Regions from separate parts of the Homo sapiens genome. Here region 2 is linked to region 1. A link means that fine-mapping ties the variant in region 1 to the expression of a gene that starts in the linked region. Tissue or cell type: whole blood. Region 1 holds a variant in brackets; the other region holds the start of a gene. All regions are shown on one strand. Distances are between the middles of the regions.

Region 1 (8,178 bases):
GGGCGCCGGGGCAGGGGAGGGATGGGGAGTGACAGCTGACGGGGACAGGGCCTCCTCTAGGGGGACAATGATCTGGAATTAGAATTACATGGTGATGGCTGAACAGCTCTGGACTTTGTAACAGCCACAGCATCGTTCACTTAGAAATGGGGACTTTTCTGTCACGTGAATTGAGTCTCACGTGACAGAAAAGGGGCGGGGCGTGGTGGCTCGCACCTGTAATCCCGACACTTTGGGAGGCCGAGGCGGATGGATCACCTGAGATCACGAGTTTGAGACCACCCTGGCCAACGTGGTGAAACCCCGTCTCTACTAAAAATACAAAAATCAGCTGGGCGCGGTGGCGCACACCTGTAATCCCAGCTACTCGGGAGGCTGAGGCAGGAGAATCACTTGAACCAGGCAAGCAGAGGCTGCAGTGAGCTGAGATCGTGCCATTGCACTCCAGCCTGGGAGACAGAGTGAGACTTTGTCTCAAAAATAAATAAATATGGTGCGCGTCTGTAATCCCAGCTACTCAGGAGGCTGAGACAGGAGAATCGCTTGAACCTGGGAGGCAGAGTTTGCCATGAGCCGAGATAGATCACACCATTGCACTCCAGCTTAGACACCAAAAGCAAAACTCCATCTCAAAACAAAACAAAAAACTAGAGAAAAACAGAGACAGAAAAGAAAGAAAGAAAATAAAGAAGAAATGCAGGCCGGGCGCGGTGGCTCACGCCTGTAATCCCAATGCTTTGGGAGGCTGAGGTGGGTGGATCACAAGGTCAGGAGATTGAGACCAGCCTGGCTAACACGGTGAAACCCCGTGTCCACTAAAAAACACAAAAAATTAGCTGGGCGTGGTGGTGGGCACCTGTAGTCCCAGCTACTCGGGAGGCTGAGGCGGGAGAATGGCATGAACCCAGGAGGCGTTGGTTGCAGTGAGCCGAGGTCACGCCACTGCACTCCAGCCTGGGCGACAGAGCGAGATTTCATCTCAAAAAAAAAAAAAAAGCAGCAGCAACACAGAGCCACGTGTCCACAGAACCACGGTTCACCTGCACACCGCGGCAGGGGGCCCCACCAGGACACACGGGGCTGAGCCATCACCCACCAGGGACATTGAGCCTGATGGCTTCGCGCCAACCTGGAGACGGAAGGCTGAGCAGAAGTGAGGGGGGCCCTTCCTCCGGGCCAGGGTGGCTGGAGGGCCGGGCAAGGCACACACGTGACACCGCGGGAGCCCCGCAGCCCACGGTGGATGCCAGCAGCGGCATCCTGGCGCAGCGTGAGCCCCAGGGGTGGGGGTGGGGGTGGCCAGGGAGCAGGCAGAGAGCGGGGAAGGGGTGGGGGTCCCACACAGACCCAGCCGTCAGCAGGAGAAGGCACACGGAAAACAGACGGACGCAGCAGGGATGCCCGCAGGCAGCTCCCACGGGCAGAGGCTGCTGACCCCGCCTTGGGCAGGACCAGCCTCTGCTCAGCCTTGGGTCTTCCCCCAGGCTGAGAGAAACAGGAAATGGATGGTGAAGGAACCCCGTCCCCGCCAAGCGGCCAAAGTTACCAGCATCAGCACAACACGCGCAACGCCAGGCACTCCGGTCCACGCCGCACTGTACATGGTGCCGTCTGAGGGATTCCTCCATCCAGTCAGGAGACAACCCCAGACAAAACCAACGGAGAGGCACTCTGGAGAAGACACACCCTGGAGAAGACACACCCTGGAGAAGACGCACCCCGGAGAAGACGCACCCCGGAGAAGAGGCGCCCCGGAGAAGAGGCACTCCGGAGAAGACGCGCCCCGGAGAACACGCGCCCCGGAGAAGAGGCACCCTGGAGAACTGCCTCTTCGGGGGCAAGCGCAGAGGCTGCTGACTCCCCCGGTCCAACAAGCTCTTAGTTTTTGCAATTTTTTTGTAATTTTTTTTTTTTTAGACAGAGTCTTGCTCTGTCACCCAGGCTCGAATGCAGTGGCGCAATCTCGGCTCCCTGCAACCTCTGCTTCCCGAGTTCAAGTGATTCTCCTGCCTCAGCCTCCTGAGTAGCTGGGATTACAGGTGCCCGCCACCATGCTCAGCTAATTTTTGTATTTGTAGTAGAGACGGGGTTTCGCCACGTTGGCCAGGATGGTCTCAAACTCCTAAGCTCAGGTGATCTGCCCGCCTTGGCCCCCCAAAGTGCTGGGGTTACAAGCTTGAGCACTGCGCCTGACCTGTAAATCTAATTTTTAATTTTGTATAGAGATGAGGTCTCATTATGTTGCCCAGGCTGGATCCACGTGTCCTTCATGGACAAACACAGTGGGCCCCTCCACGCGTCCATCACGGACAAACACAGTGGGGCCCTCCACGCATCCATCACGGACACACGGACAAACACAATGGGCCTCCCACTGGGAACTCCCAGACTCAAGCGATCCTCATGCCTCAGTCAAATAGATGGGACCCAAATACTGGGACTACAGGCTTGCACCACCATGCCCGACTAATTTTTTCTATTTTTTATACAGATAGGGTCTCACTATGTTGCGCAGGCTGGTCTCAAACCCCTGGGCTCAAACAATCCTCCCGCCTTGGCCTCCCAAAGTGCTGGGATCACAGGCGTGAGCCACCGTGCCCAGTCCTGACTCAAACATGACCTCCTGCATTCCCAGGGGCAGAATCTCCCAGGCACAGTGGCCCTACTCGGAGTCTGTGAAGTGAAGACCACCAGGTGAGCCATGATCAACCCTCCCCTCAATGACCTCCCTCACGATCAACCCTCCCCTCAATGGCCTCCCTCCTCATGATCAACCCTCACTCAGTGACCTCCCTCATGATCAACCCTCCCTCAATGACCTCCCTCCCCACGATCAATCCTCACTCAATGACCTCCCTCCCCATGATCAACCCTCACTCAATGACCTCCCTCATGATCAACCCTCCCTCAATGACCTCCCTCACGATCAACCCTCCCCTCAATGACCTCCCTCCCCACAATCAATCTGCCCCTCAGTGGCCTCCCTCCCCAGGCCGTGAAGGCTCTCCAGCAGAACCAACAGTGCTGCGGAGTCCACTGGCCCCAGGCACTGCCCGGGTCCACGGCTCATCTGCTTTCTCCTATTGCTCTGGCTGCCAAGAAACTCAGGGCTCAGGTGTATCAATAGTTACCAGGCGGATCGCCTGAGGTCAGGAGTTCGAGACCAGCCTGGCCAATATGGTGAAACCCCGTCTCTACTAAAAATACAAAAATTAGCCAGGCGTGGTGGCGCACACCTATAATCCCAGCTACTCGGGAGGCTGAGGCAGAAGAATGGCTCACACTTGGGAGGCAGAGGTTGCAGTGAGCCGAGATTGCACCACTGCACTCCAGCCTGGGTGACAGAGCGAGACTCCGTCTCAAAAAACAATAGGCCAGGTGCGGTGGCTCATGCCTGTAATCCCAGCACTTTGGGAGACGGGCAGATCACCTGAGGTCAGGAGTTCGAGACCATCCTGGCCAACATGGCGAAATCCCATCTCTACTAAAAATATAAAAATTAGCCGGGCGTGGTGGTGGGTGCCTGTAGTCCCAGCTACTTGGTAGGCTGAGGCAGGAGAATCGCTTGAACCCGCCAGGCAGAGGTTGCAGTTACCCAAGATGGCGCCACTACACTCCAGCCTGGGCAAGAGTAAGAGTCGGTCTCCAGAAAAAAAAGTCATGACTAGCTGTCTCGTTATGGCCTGTGGGGTTTTACATTCACCCTCACTCCCAGCCCAGGAACAGGTTCTCCCTACCAATCCCTCCAGGTTTATACAACAGCAGGAAACATTTGCAGGGAATGCACACATGCCACAGGTCACACGATGGCTTTGAACGGTGCCTCCGTTTCCCCTCGCTCCCGTGAAAAGCTACTGTCAACCTCATGGCTCCAACAAGCTGAATATGGTGGCTCACGCCTGTAATCCCCATGCTTTGGTAGGCTCAGGCAGGAGAATCGCTTGAGCCCAGAAGTTTGAGACCAGCCTAGGCAACACAGTGAGACCTCATTTCTACAAAACATAAAAAATTATCTGGGTGTGGTGGTGTGTCCTTATGGTCCCAGCTACTGGGGAAGCTGAGGTGGGAGCTTGAGCCCAGGAGGTGGAGGCTGCAGTGAGCCGAGATTGCACCGCTGCACTCCAGGCTGAACAACAGAGCCAGACCCTGTCTCTAAAAATAAAAATTAAAAAAATATATAAATGAAACACACACTTATCCTCTCACAGTCTGGAGGGCAGAACTTGTAACATCAAGGGTGGGCAGGGCAGGTCCCTCCCGGGGGCTCCAGGGGAAAACCCAGTTCCTGCCTTTCCAGTGTCCAGAGGCACCCGCATCCCTTGGCTTGGGGCCCCTTCTTCCCCCTTCACGGCCAGAGCGCAGGCTCTTCCCGTCTCTCTCTGGCTCTCACCCTCCCGCCTCCTCTCATGAGGGCCCTGTGAGGACACTGGGTCTCCAGGTCACCCAGGAAGCTCTCCCGTCTCGGGTCCATCACTCAGTCCCATCTGCAGGTCCCTGTGAGGACACTGGGCCTCCAGGTCACCCAGGAAGCTCT[T/C]CCGTCTTGGGTCCATCACTCAGTCCCATCTGCAGGTCCCGTCTGCCATGAGAGGCGACACGGCGGCAGGTCCTGGGGATCAGGACGGGGACGTCTTGGAGGCTGTAACCGTGTGGCCAGCACATTTCCTCAGGTCTGAGTCGGGAGCAGAGGCTTCCGTGGCTGGCTGGGCTGCGCTGGGGGGCACGGCGCAAAGGGCCTCGAACACCAGGCTCAGGTCTGGGCTCCTTCCTGGCTCCGCAGAACCACGCGGCCCAGCCCACAGGCCTGGGCTGACTCATACCCGTCCCGTCCCACACTTGGCACCGCGGGACCACGCATCCCGTCCCACACTCGACACCACAGAACCTTGCGGCCCAGCCCACAGGACTGAGCTGACCCACACCCGTCCCATCCCACACTCAGCACTGGGGGACCACGCGGCCCGGCCCACACTTGGCACCGGGGTCAGACTTCCTCCAAATGAAGTTCTGCTGCTTTAACAGGGAGATTTGGGTCCAAGCTGCCCCACATACGGACGCTGGAGCATGAGGCGGCTGTAGGCAGGGTGGGCAGGGAGCCGGGCGGGCGGTGCTCACAGAACCAGCACAGTGGCCCCGAGGGCTCCGGGCTGAACAGATGCAGCAGCAATTGTTCAGGAGGGGAGGAGCAGGAGAATTCATGAGACAGAGATGGAGACGGAGACAGAGACAGAGACATGGAGAGAGACAGAGACAGGGAGACAGAGACGCAGAGACATAGAGACATAGAGACAGAGGCAGAGAGGGAAACAGACGAAGACAGAGAGGGCGACAGAGACAGAGGCAGAGAGGGAAACAGACGAAGACAGAGAGGGCGACAGAGACAGAGAGGGAAACAGACACAGAGGCAGAGAGGGAGACAAAGAGACAGGTGGAGAGGGAGACAGAGAGACAGAGGCAGAGACAAAGAGACAGAGACAGAGAGGGAGACAGAGAGACAGAGACAGAGAGGGAGACAGAGAGACAGGGGCAGAGACAAGCAGAGAGGGAGACACAGACAGAGACAGAGAGGGAGACAGAGAGACAGAGGCGGAGATGGAGACAGAGACAGAGAGACAGAGACAGAGAGGGAGACAGAGACAAAGAGGGAGACAGAGACAGAGACTGAGAGGGAGACAGAGAGATGGAGCATAGAGGGAGACAGAGACAGAGGCAGAGAGAGAGACAGAGGCAGAGAGGAAGACAGAGGCAGAGAGGGAGGCAGAGACAGAGAGGGAGATAGGCAGAGAGAGATTGAGAGGGAGGGAGACAGAGAGAGAGACTAGGAGCAGGGGGAAGAGGGAGAGAGAGAGACAGAGAAAAGAAAGAGACAGGCCGGGCACGGTGGCTCACGCCTGTAATCCCAGCACTTTGGGAGGCTGAGGCGGGCGGATCACCACAGGTCAGGAGTTTGAGACCAGCCTGACCAACATGGAGAAACCCTGTCTCTACCAAAAAAAAAAAAAAAAAAATTAGCCAGGCATGGTGGTGCATGCCTGTGGTCTCAGCTGCTCGGGAGGCTGAGGCAGGAAAATCGCTTGAACCTGGGAAGCGGAGGTTGCAGTGAGCCAAGATCGTGCCATTGCACTCCAGCCTGAGCAACAAGAGCAAAACTCTGTCTCAAAAAAAAAAAAAAAGAAAGAAAGAAAGGAAAGAGAGAAGGAACACACAGAAAGAGGCAGAGAAGGGGTGAAAGAGAAGAAGGGGGCGGGGCAAGGACAGGCTGACCCAGGGCTGGGGCTGGTAGGAAGGCAGTGGCGGTGAGGAAGGAGCCACTGCCATCAGTCGCACCCCGGGCTCCTCCCCTGTGCGTCCCCTGAAGGGTGGGGCACAGATGCCAGCTCTGGACAGGCGCCTCCCCTGCCTCAGTTTCCTTCTGTGTCCGGCTGGCATGGCGCAGCAGCTTGCCACACCTTGGCCAGGACCAGATCACATGGGGGTCCAGGGCTACTGCGGGTGAGGACAGAGCCCCTGTGCGCACCTCGCTGACCTCAGCCCCAAGATGAGCAGGGGCGCCCCCCTCCCCTGAACACAGCTGGTAGGCCAATTTCCAGGCCACACACTGGGGGCTACAGGACAGGAATCCACCCTCTTCCCGTCCCAGGGCCCGGGAGTCTGAGGCCAAGGTGTCTCAGGGCCTTGCTCCCTCCCACAGCTCTGACCCACCTCTTCCAGCCCTGGGGCTCCAGGAGAAACTGACCTGTGGCCACACCGCCCCAGCCCCGGCCTCCAGCGTGGCGCCAGCTCCCAATCTCTCCTGTCTCTTCTGAGGACCCTTGTGCTGGATTTCAGAGCTACCTCATCTCATCTTGATCCCTACCCAATGACATCCAAAAAGACCCTACTTTCCAGGAAGGTCCCCTCACAGACTCTACTGGGGAGGCGGACTTGACGGACGCGGTCACCCCAGCACAGACTCAGGGTCCGGCTGGCTTTGCCCCGCTCTGCTACGGCCCTGAGTGGGGAAAACTGGGCCCGGGGTCCACCCGGCGAGCTGTTTGCAGGGCCTGGGTCTGGGTGAGCCCTGGGACCTGAATTGGCTCCATTCTGCTGCAGCCACACCTGACCGCTTCTCTCTGGATCTGGCCGGCTTGCGCCCATCCCCCCAACAGCTCTGAGGCCCAGGCAGATCTCACATGCCCATTACACAGGGGAAGCGGAGGCTTGGGGGAGCTGAGCACCAGGTGACCCTCGCTCCCCGGCAGGCCCTGGATGTGGTCCGGCCCAGCAGCAGCCCCTGGCCCCGGGTCCCACACGGAGGCTGTGGTATCCGAACCGTCCCAGGGAAGCCGATCTCTGTGGCACTGGGTGCTCCAGAGCTGCCGAGAGGAAGCTGGGGCACTGGGAACCCCTTGGGGAAGGCTGTGAGGGTGGGGGTGGGGTCCGCCTGATGCCGCAGTGGGAGGCTGTGAGGGTGGGGGTGGGGTCCGCCTGATGCCGAAGGGGGAGGCTGGGAGGGTGGGGGTGGGGTCCGCCTGATGCCGCAGTGGGAGGCTGGGAGCCTCCCCGCGACCCTGGGGAGAAGGAGGTGGAAAGTTCTGTTCCTTTGGTATGTGAGTTCCGTTTTCAGGTGGCTGCTAAGGGGTTGGGACTCCAATGTGCAGGGTGTCTGGACCCGCCTAGAGGGAGGGCCGTGGGGGCAAAGGCTGCCAAGGGCATCTCTCCCAGCACCGCCCTCCCCGCAACTCCCTCTGTGGCATTGCCCAGATGCTCGCAGGGACCCCAAGGGCTGGGCGGGGCTCACTGCTGACACGAAGGGCCAGTCACTGGCTCTTCCCCAAAACCAAGCCACATCTCTGGGCTCCTACTGCCCCACCGTAAACCCTGCGGCCGAGGGGCCAAGCCGAGGTCACTGAGTCCCAGGCAGGCCTGAGCGAGAGAGGTCGCAGGGCAGCTGGAGGGGCGGCCCAGACTCCACCCTGCCCCCCACGGCGCGGTGAGCTCCTGGGGCTCCTACCTGAGCAAAGTCGCAGGTCTTTGGTGGCAAGCTGGAGGCGGTGGCCACGGGGGCATAGCTGGTGTCTGGGCAGGGCTGGCTGCCGAGGAAGGAGGCGGAGCTCATGAACGGGCTGGAGGGAGATGGGGGGGGGGGAGGTGAGATGGGGTGCTCAACCCACTCCCTCAGTAACACACCTGCACCCCCAT
Region 2 (8,162 bases), 32 kb after region 1:
CGAGCAACACACACATGCACAGGAGCACACAGCCACAGGCACGCACATTCACACACACACAACGCACCCACATCCGTACAACACACACACAGAACGCGCACACGTCCGTACGACGCACACACAGAATGCACGTGCGTACGTACAATGCACACAAAGAATACACACATCCATACAACACACAGGCACACAACACACATGTGCATGCACATGGCGCAACATACAGATACACAAAGACACGTGTACACACACATGCAGAGTCCCCAGGGCAGCGCTGGCGTCATGGGGGGCTGCCTCCACACCGCCTCCAGGAGTGTTTACAGCTGTGGATTACATGATACCGCCCCCTTCCCAGAGCTGATCCCACCCCCCAGCATGGGGGCCCCCTGGGAGGGGGCCTCTGGGAGCCGGACTGGTTCTGTCGACACAGTCGCCTCTTTGTTCGGGGCAGAGCTCACTCTGGCGGTGTTGGCGTTTCCGCATGGGCCCTGCCGGAGGGGCATCCGTGACTCCGCTGGAGCCGGGTTGGGCCAAGCCCAAGCTGGTCACACCCCTCACACCCCTGGGGTTGGGGGAGGCCTTAGGCAGCAAGTGGGTGGGGGGTCTAGGGGTGGCTGGCGCAACCTCTCTCCACCTCGGTTTCCCCGCCAGGTGAGAGGGCAGTGACTGCCCATGGTCACGCGGCTGGAGAACATGCACCCTCTCCTCCGCACCTGCACACCTGGGTGCCTCCTGTCTAGCCCAGACTCCAAAGCCAACCAAGAGTGAATGGATGAACGGAGAGGCCAGACCCCAAAGCAAACTGAGAGTGAATGGATGAGGGAAGCTCCTGCTGCCTCTTCTGTGCTCTGACAGGCTCCCTCCCCCTGAAGTCCAGCCCCTGCCTGCACAGCCCCCTCCACACCAGGGCCCTCCTGGCTCCTGGCAGGTGTGGGCAGATGTCTGCCGGGATCCTCAGAGTTAAACAAAAGCCTCCTCCCTGTGCTCTGAAATCACACTCCAGGGGCTGGCAGGCGCCTTCCAAGTCCTTCCCTCTCCAAGGACGAGAGCCTGCCTGCGTCTCCTCTGCCGTCTCCCCTGCCGTGGGAGGCCCTGAGGCCCCCATCCTGCTGTTCTCCATCCCACCCACCAAGGGGTCCAGATCTCAAATTCGCCCTTTCTCGGCAAGAACTCTGAAGGTGGCCCGGAGCAGGCCACTGTGAGAAGCCATCACCCCACGACCAGGGTCACCCCTGGGAAAATCTGGGGCCGGGCAGCCAGATCCCTGAAGGCCAGAGGATGTCTGGGAAGAAAGGGCGTGGACGGCACCTGCTGGGCCTGCCACAAACTCTCTGGGTCCCATGTCCCCGCTGCTCCTCTTCCAGGGCCGAGTCAGGGAGAGACATCCCAGGGAGGGCACCCGAAACAGCACAGCACCCCTCAGTCAGGAAGCAGTGCCGGCTGCCCTGGCCCGGAGGAAGAGGCCTGGAAGAAAGTTTGAAGCCTGTAATCCCCGTGTAATCGGGCTGGCTGCCCACGGGGTCTGCGGCCCTGGGTCCTCGGCCCCTCCCATGCTCTTCTCTTGAACCTCGGCTTCCTCTGCCCCTCTGTAAAACACTCACTGCAACCGCCCCCCCCGCCCCGGCAAACTGGCAGCCAGCATCAGCACAGGCCAGCTCCGAGGCCGGGCACTCTCGCTGACAGGGCGTGCAACAGATGGCACCAAACCTATCCCGTCCCGTCCCAGCAGTCACAGGCAGGAAGGACGTTCTGAGCAGGCGGGAACAACAGGCATTCCGGGAAGAAGCAGCCAGGGGAGGCCCCGGCTACACATTTAAGAGATTTTTTTTTTTTTTTTTTAACTTTTCAGAATGTTAATCAGTTCATCCAGGGAGACACCCACCGTCCCTGCCCCAGCACCATCCGTGCCCGGCGTCCCTGGAGGCGCTGGGTGGGCTCTCCACAACGCCTGCCCCCCACGCCCCAGGTCAGTCTGGGGATTGGTCCCTCCAGGCCCCACCTGCCTTATTCTTCGGGACTCTGGGGTGGTGGGAAGAGTGCCCTACGGGGGACAGGACCCACCAGGAGGCCTGCGCTTCCCCTTCACCGACACACGCTGCTCCCGGGCCCCACTCGGGCCATCTCAGCCCGCTACCCTCCCTCCCGCCTGTCCCTGGAAGCCGGGTTTGAATGCGACCCGCACTCCCACCCCCAACACGCTCTGCAGACTCCGCCCAGACGGCCCCGGGGTCACCTAATATCAGCAAGCCCCCATCCCAAACCGGGGGACCTCCATGCAGAAACCGAAAAACCATCTGCCCCAGAAGAGAAGTCGGAGGCCCCAGGAGCGGGAGGGGCGGGGAGCAAGGGGAGGGAGGGAGACAGGGCTGCGCTGCGGGGCCGAGAAGGCAAGGGTCCTGGGACCGGGGACAAGGAGGAGGAAGGGGCACGAACGCCCGAGGAGCCTGGAGTCAGGAATCGGGGCGGCGGGAGAGACCGGGGGTCACTCCCAGGAAGGGGTCGAGGTCACGAGGCGCATGGAGTCGAGAGTCCCCAAAAGGGAAGGCCAGGATACCGAGGAAAAGCGGGTGCGGGGTCACCAAGGGGCTCGGGGGCACCGATGAGTGCGGGGTCAAGGGTTACCAGAAAACGAAAGGTCGGGGGTCACCAAGCTGCGCGGTACAGGGAGTCACCCGGAAGAGCGGGAAGGAAAGGTTGGGAGGGTTGTCGTGGAAGGTAGGGTTAAGGTTCACGGCAGGGGGTCGCCGGGGGGCGGGGGGGCAGGTCAAGGTTCACGGCGGTGGTCGCGGGGCAGCGCGGGGTCAACGTTGGCGGCGAAGGGCGGGGTCGGAAGGGGTCGCGGCGGAGGGCGGGGGTCCCGCCGCGCTCGCCCCCGCCCCACGGCCCCCAGAACCCCCAGCCCCGGGCGCAGGGGTCCGCGGGGAGCGCCGGACCCACAAGCGGGGTCGGGCCAGGCAGGGGTCGCGGTGGAGCCGGGGCGGGGGTCGCAACCAGAGCCTCACCTCGGGCCCGGGTCCGGCCGGGCGCGGAGCCCGCGGCGCCTGTTTCTCCGAGCCTCGCAGCTGCCGCCGCTCACTTCCGGGTTTCGGGCGCCATCTTGGGGGCCCCGCGCACTTCCGGTCATGCCGCGGGGCGGGGCCTCCACCTGCGGGGGCGTGGTCTCGGTTCGGGGGCGGGGCCACCTTCCAAGCCAATCCCTTGAGGTCCTTCCGCTATTCGGAAGGGGCTGGGACTCCTACGGCTCTGGGTTCGAATCCCGCCCTGCCTGGTTCTCTTGAGACCCCAGCATGTGCTTTCACCTCCTCAAGCCTCAGTTTCCTCTTCTGCACCGTGCTGGTGAAATGGAATCTGCTTTGTGGTACAGCATCCCCTTTTTTCCTCCTTCCTCAGAACCCCCTCCAAGCCTCTGCATGTGCCACGTCCCCCACTGGGGCTCACTCACCCGAGACTTTTAAACTGAGACTCCCTCAAAAGCTACTAAGACGATCACCAGCCGGGCGCAGTGGCTCACGCCTGTAATCGCAGCACTTTGAGAGGCTGAGGCGGATGGATCACTTGAGGTCGGGAGTTTGAGGCCAACCTGGACAATATGATGAAACCCCGTCTCTACTAAATATACAAAAATTAGCTGGGCGTGATGGCGGGCACCTGTAATCCCAGCTACTCAGGAGGCTGAGGCAGTAGTATCGCTTGAACCTGGGAGGTAGTTATTGCAGTGAGCTGAGATCGCACCACTGCACTCCAGCCCGGGCAACAGAGTGAGACTCCATCTCAAAAATAAATAAATAAATAACGAAATAAAATAAAATGAAATAAAATCATCACCTCTGGGCCTGTCAGACATACTCTCTCACGAAAAGTTATCTCTGTTCATTAATCTCTCTCCCTAACCAAATACAGTTCTGGACGCTTCAGCATGGTGACTGGCACATGGGGGTTTGGGTAAGTCCCAGGGGCTACCCCCAAGAGAGCAGGATCCTTTCAGGCAGGGCCACGGGGGCCTGAGGGGCTCCTCCTCTCGGTGGCTGTGGTGGGAGGCTGCCCTGCGTGGGGAGCTGGAGTCTCAGGGCACTTTTCCTGTGACTTGAGCCAGTGAAGGCAGATCCAGTGTGGGAGGCACCACCGCCTCCCCAGCCCAATTTCAGCCATGACAATACTGATACAGCTCCCTGGACCCAAGCAGCCACAAGCCAGAGGCCTCTGCCCCCATTCCAACCCCCTGAAACTAGAGTTGATTTCTCCATGACTTTGTTAATTCATTCAGTGACTTCTAATCGATGCTGCTCTGTGCTTGGTCATGAGCTGGGAAAACCCAGGGTCTCACAGAGGACTCAGCTGTCTGTCCCAACATCAGAAAGCCCCTGGTCTAGGGGAGAGAGAACCAGGACCAGACACTCCAATATGCGGGATCTCTGGGAGGGTTGAAATGTCTGCCTAGGGCTTCATAGAGGGCTGCATGCTGAAGAGTGTGTTGAAGCTGGGGTTTTGAAGTTCAAGTAGGAGTGTACCAGGTAGACAAGAGTAGGAAGAACAGTCCGGGCAAAGAAGGCCTGGTAAGGCAGATAATAAGCAGGTTTAAGATATTTTAGCACCTCTCTAAAAAACTGAGGCCAAAAGCCAGGCACGGTGGCTCACGCCTGTAATCCCAGCACTACGGGAGTCTGAGGCAGGAGGAACACCTGAGGTCAGCGGTTTGAGACCAGCCTGGCCAACATGGTGAAACCCCATCTCTACTAAAAGTACAAAAAAGTTAGCTGGGCATGGTGGTGCCTGCCTGTATTCCCAGCTACTAGGGAGGCTGAGGCAGGAGAATCGCTTGAACCCAGGAGGTAGAGGTTGCAGTGAGCTGAGATCACACCACTGCACTCCAGCCTGGGCGATAGAGTGAGGTTCGGTCTCAAAAAAACAAACAAACAAAAAACGGTGGCTCACGCCTGTAATCCCAACACTTTGGGAGGCTGAGGTGGGTGAATCACCTAGGTCAGAAGTTCAACACCAGCCTGACGAACATGGTGAAACCCTGTCTCTACTAAAAATACAAAAATTAGCCAGGCGTGGTAGTGGGTGCCTGTAATCCTGACTACTCAGGAGGCTGAGGCAGGAGAATCACTTGAATCTGGGAGGCGGAGGTTGCAGTGAGCTGAGATCGCGCCATTGCACTCCAGCCTGGGTGACATGACAAGACCCCGTCTAAAAAAAAAAAAAAAAAAAAAATTTCAGGCCAAGGACCCCTGTCATCAAACCCAAAAGCACAAGGGGGCAGATGGGGAAACTCAGACCCAGAAGGCAGAAGTGATATGTCCAGAGTGAGATGCAGAAGGCGCACAAGGACATTTTGTCCTTCAGCTCATTGGGGGTCTCCTTTACCCATGGTGACAGAACGGCGTCCACCTGTTGTGAGCTTTTCCTCAGAGTCCCGCAGAGCAGCCGGACCCGACAGAGATACTTCCCTCCACACTGAATCTCTTTTTTTTTTTTTTTTTTTTGGGACGGAGTCTGGCTCTGTCGCCCAGGCTGGAGTGCAGTGGCGCAATCTCAGCTCACTGCAAGCTCCACCTCCCAGGTTCATGCCATTCTCCTGCCTCAGCCTCCTGAGTAGCTGGGACTGCAGGCGCCCGCCACCACCCCGGCTAATTTTTTGTATTTTTAGTAGAGACGGGGTTTCACCGTGTTAGCCAGGATGGTCTCGATCTCCTGACCTCGTGATCCGCCCGCCTCGGCCACCCAAAGTGCTGGGATTACGGGCGTGAGCCAACGCACCCGGCCAAATCTCCTTTTTTTTGAGATGGAGTCTTGCTGTGTCTCCCAGGCCGGAGTGCAATGGCATGACCTCTGCCTCCCGGTTTTGGCAAACTGGGTGCTCATCTCAACTTTGAGACTATTTTCTCTTTTTTTTGAGATGGAGTTTCACTCCTGTTGCCCAGGCTGGAGTGCATTGGCGCAATCTTGGCCCACTGCAACCTCCTCCTCCCCTGTTCAAGTGGTTATCCTGCCTCAGCCTGCCAAGTAGCTGGGATTACAGGCATGTGCCACCATGCCCAGCTAATTTTGTATTTTCCGTAGAAATAGGGTTTCTCCATGTTGGTCAGGCTGGTCTCAAACTCCTGACCTCAGGTGATCTGCCTGCCTCGGCCTCCCAAAGTGCTGGGATTACAGGCATGAGCCACCGTGCCTGGCTGAGACTCTTTTCACAGCAAATTGAACAGCAGTTAAATTGAGCAATAGGCACTAAAGATTTGGAAGGGTGAGGAAGCCAGCCTGGGGACTGGAGGGTGGCGGCTGCATCTGCTCATTTCCTCCCACACTGGACCATCCACACAACTTTTGAGGATCAGTGGAAATGAAAACACGGTGCCCCGGCACAAAACATATTTCATAGCTTGGGTTAGGCAACAGCAAAGCATCACGCTGAGCGCCGGGACCTTCTGAGTGCAGGCGGTGGGCGAAGCCCCGAGTCACACACACCCACGACGCCGGCCCTGCTCCCACAGCGGCCCTCTGGGGTAGCGACTGGTATTACCTGCATTTCACGAGGGAGGAAACTGAGGCACGAACTGTTCAGAAGCTGCCCTGAGGTCACCAAGTGAGCTAGGAAGAGGCGTGGGCTCGATCTCTGCCACATCCACCTCGGGAAACCACAAGGTCTCGATGGGTGATTTTGCCTAAAGTGGGGGCAGTTTGCCCAGGCCGGGGTGGGTCCAGCCATCTCAGCAGGCAGGAATCTGCCAAGTTGGGGGATGCTTAGGGAATTAGTCAGATGCGGGGATTTCCAGGGAATCACAGGGGGTGGCTCCGGAAAGCAGCAGGGACACAGTACTGGGGCTCATGGCCCAGCCTGGAGTACAGTGCTGTGAATCTGCTGTGTGACCCAAGGAGAGTTACTTAACCTCTCTGTGCCCCGGTTTTCCCACCTATAAAATGGGGAGGGTGATAATAATAGCAACTAGTGGCCGGGCACGGTGGCTTATACCTGTAATCCCAGCACTTTGGGAGGCTGAGACGGGAAGATCACGAGGTCAAGAGATTGAGACCATCCTGGATAACATGGTGAAACCCTGTCTCTACTAAAAATACAAAAATAAGCCGGACATGATGGTACGTACCTGTGGTCCCAACCACTCCGGAGGCTGAGGCAGGAGAATCGCTTGAACCCGGGAGGCGGAGGTTGCAATGAGCTGAGATCGCACCACTGCACTCCAGCCTGGGCAACAGAGCAAGACTCTGTCTCAAAAAAAATAATAATAATGATAATAATAATAATAGCAACTAGCTGCTAGGTTGTTCAGACAACTCAATGGACAGACAGTGCCTAATAGAATTTAACCACTACGAATATTTCCAAATGAAATTCTTTTTTTTTTTTTTTTTGAGACGAAGTCTGGCCCTTTCACCCAGGCTGGAGTGCAGGGGCATGAGCTCAACTTAGTGCAACCCCTGCCTCTTGGGTCCAAGTGATTATCTTGCCTCAGCCTCCCAAGTAGCTGGGATTACAGGCACGTGCCACCATGCCCGGCTAATTTTTGTATTTTCAGTAGAGGCAGGGTTTCACCATGTTGACCAGGATGGTCTCGAGCTCTTGACCTCGTGATCCGCCTGCCTTGGCCTCCCATATTGCTGGGATTCCAGGCTTGAGCCACCCTAGGGAAATTCTTGATTTTCCTCGGCCCAGTCCATGGCGTCACTGAAGTGGATGTTCAATGAGAAAATAATAAGGATGAATGCTGCAGTTGGAGTTCAAGAGAGGAGGCATTTTTGACGCCACAGATGGGCAGAGATGGGGTGAGGGCCCTGGCCGGCACCAGCTCTCCTGGCTCAGACTTTGGAAGCCGCCCCCCAGGGGAGACGCTCAACTGGTCAGAGGTGTGGATAGCCCCGTCCCCCAGTAGTCCCACCCCGCAGAGAGCTCTCAGGCTTCCAGCTCTGGCCCAGGCCCAGGTCCTCGGTGCCATGTGAAGGGTGGAGAGCTCTCCTGGGGGACAGAGTTGTACATTTGTGGAGGTTTTCTGGTGGGGCTGTGTTTGACGTCAACACTCTCCTCCCTAAACCCTCCCTCTTCCCCATCCCATACAGGTCCTCCTAAATGTCTTCCCAGCCCCTTCGAGAGAATTGTGGAAGTGGGGTTGCCAGATCAAACACAAGACACCCAGTTAAAATTCAACTGTAGG

What was found. PIP is the estimated chance that this variant, and not a neighbour inherited with it, causes the effect.
Region 2: SBNO2 starts here. The variant in region 1 is fine-mapped to the expression of SBNO2 in whole blood (TOPMed, PIP above 0.99).

What each region holds. Positions count from the first base shown.
Region 1 is chr19:1,139,319-1,147,496 of GRCh38, forward strand. It overlaps SBNO2 (strawberry notch homolog 2), which reads right to left. Exons shown (of 32, transcript NM_014963.3): 4 at 7,991-8,102. Among named protein-coding and RNA genes, the nearest start is that of SBNO2, 31 kb to the right of the region's middle. The variant T/C (reference allele first, on the strand shown) is at 4,535.
Region 2 is chr19:1,171,173-1,179,334 of GRCh38, forward strand. SBNO2 (strawberry notch homolog 2) reads right to left here and starts at 3,096. Exons shown (of 32, transcript NM_014963.3): 1 at 3,000-3,096. It overlaps LOC102725180 (collagen alpha-1(VII) chain), which reads left to right. Exons shown (of 3, transcript XR_005647046.2): 2 at 1,847-2,712; 3 at 3,388-3,821. RefSeq lists enhancers at 1,464-2,022, 3,407-3,456, 6,212-7,411 and a silencer at 2,957-3,266.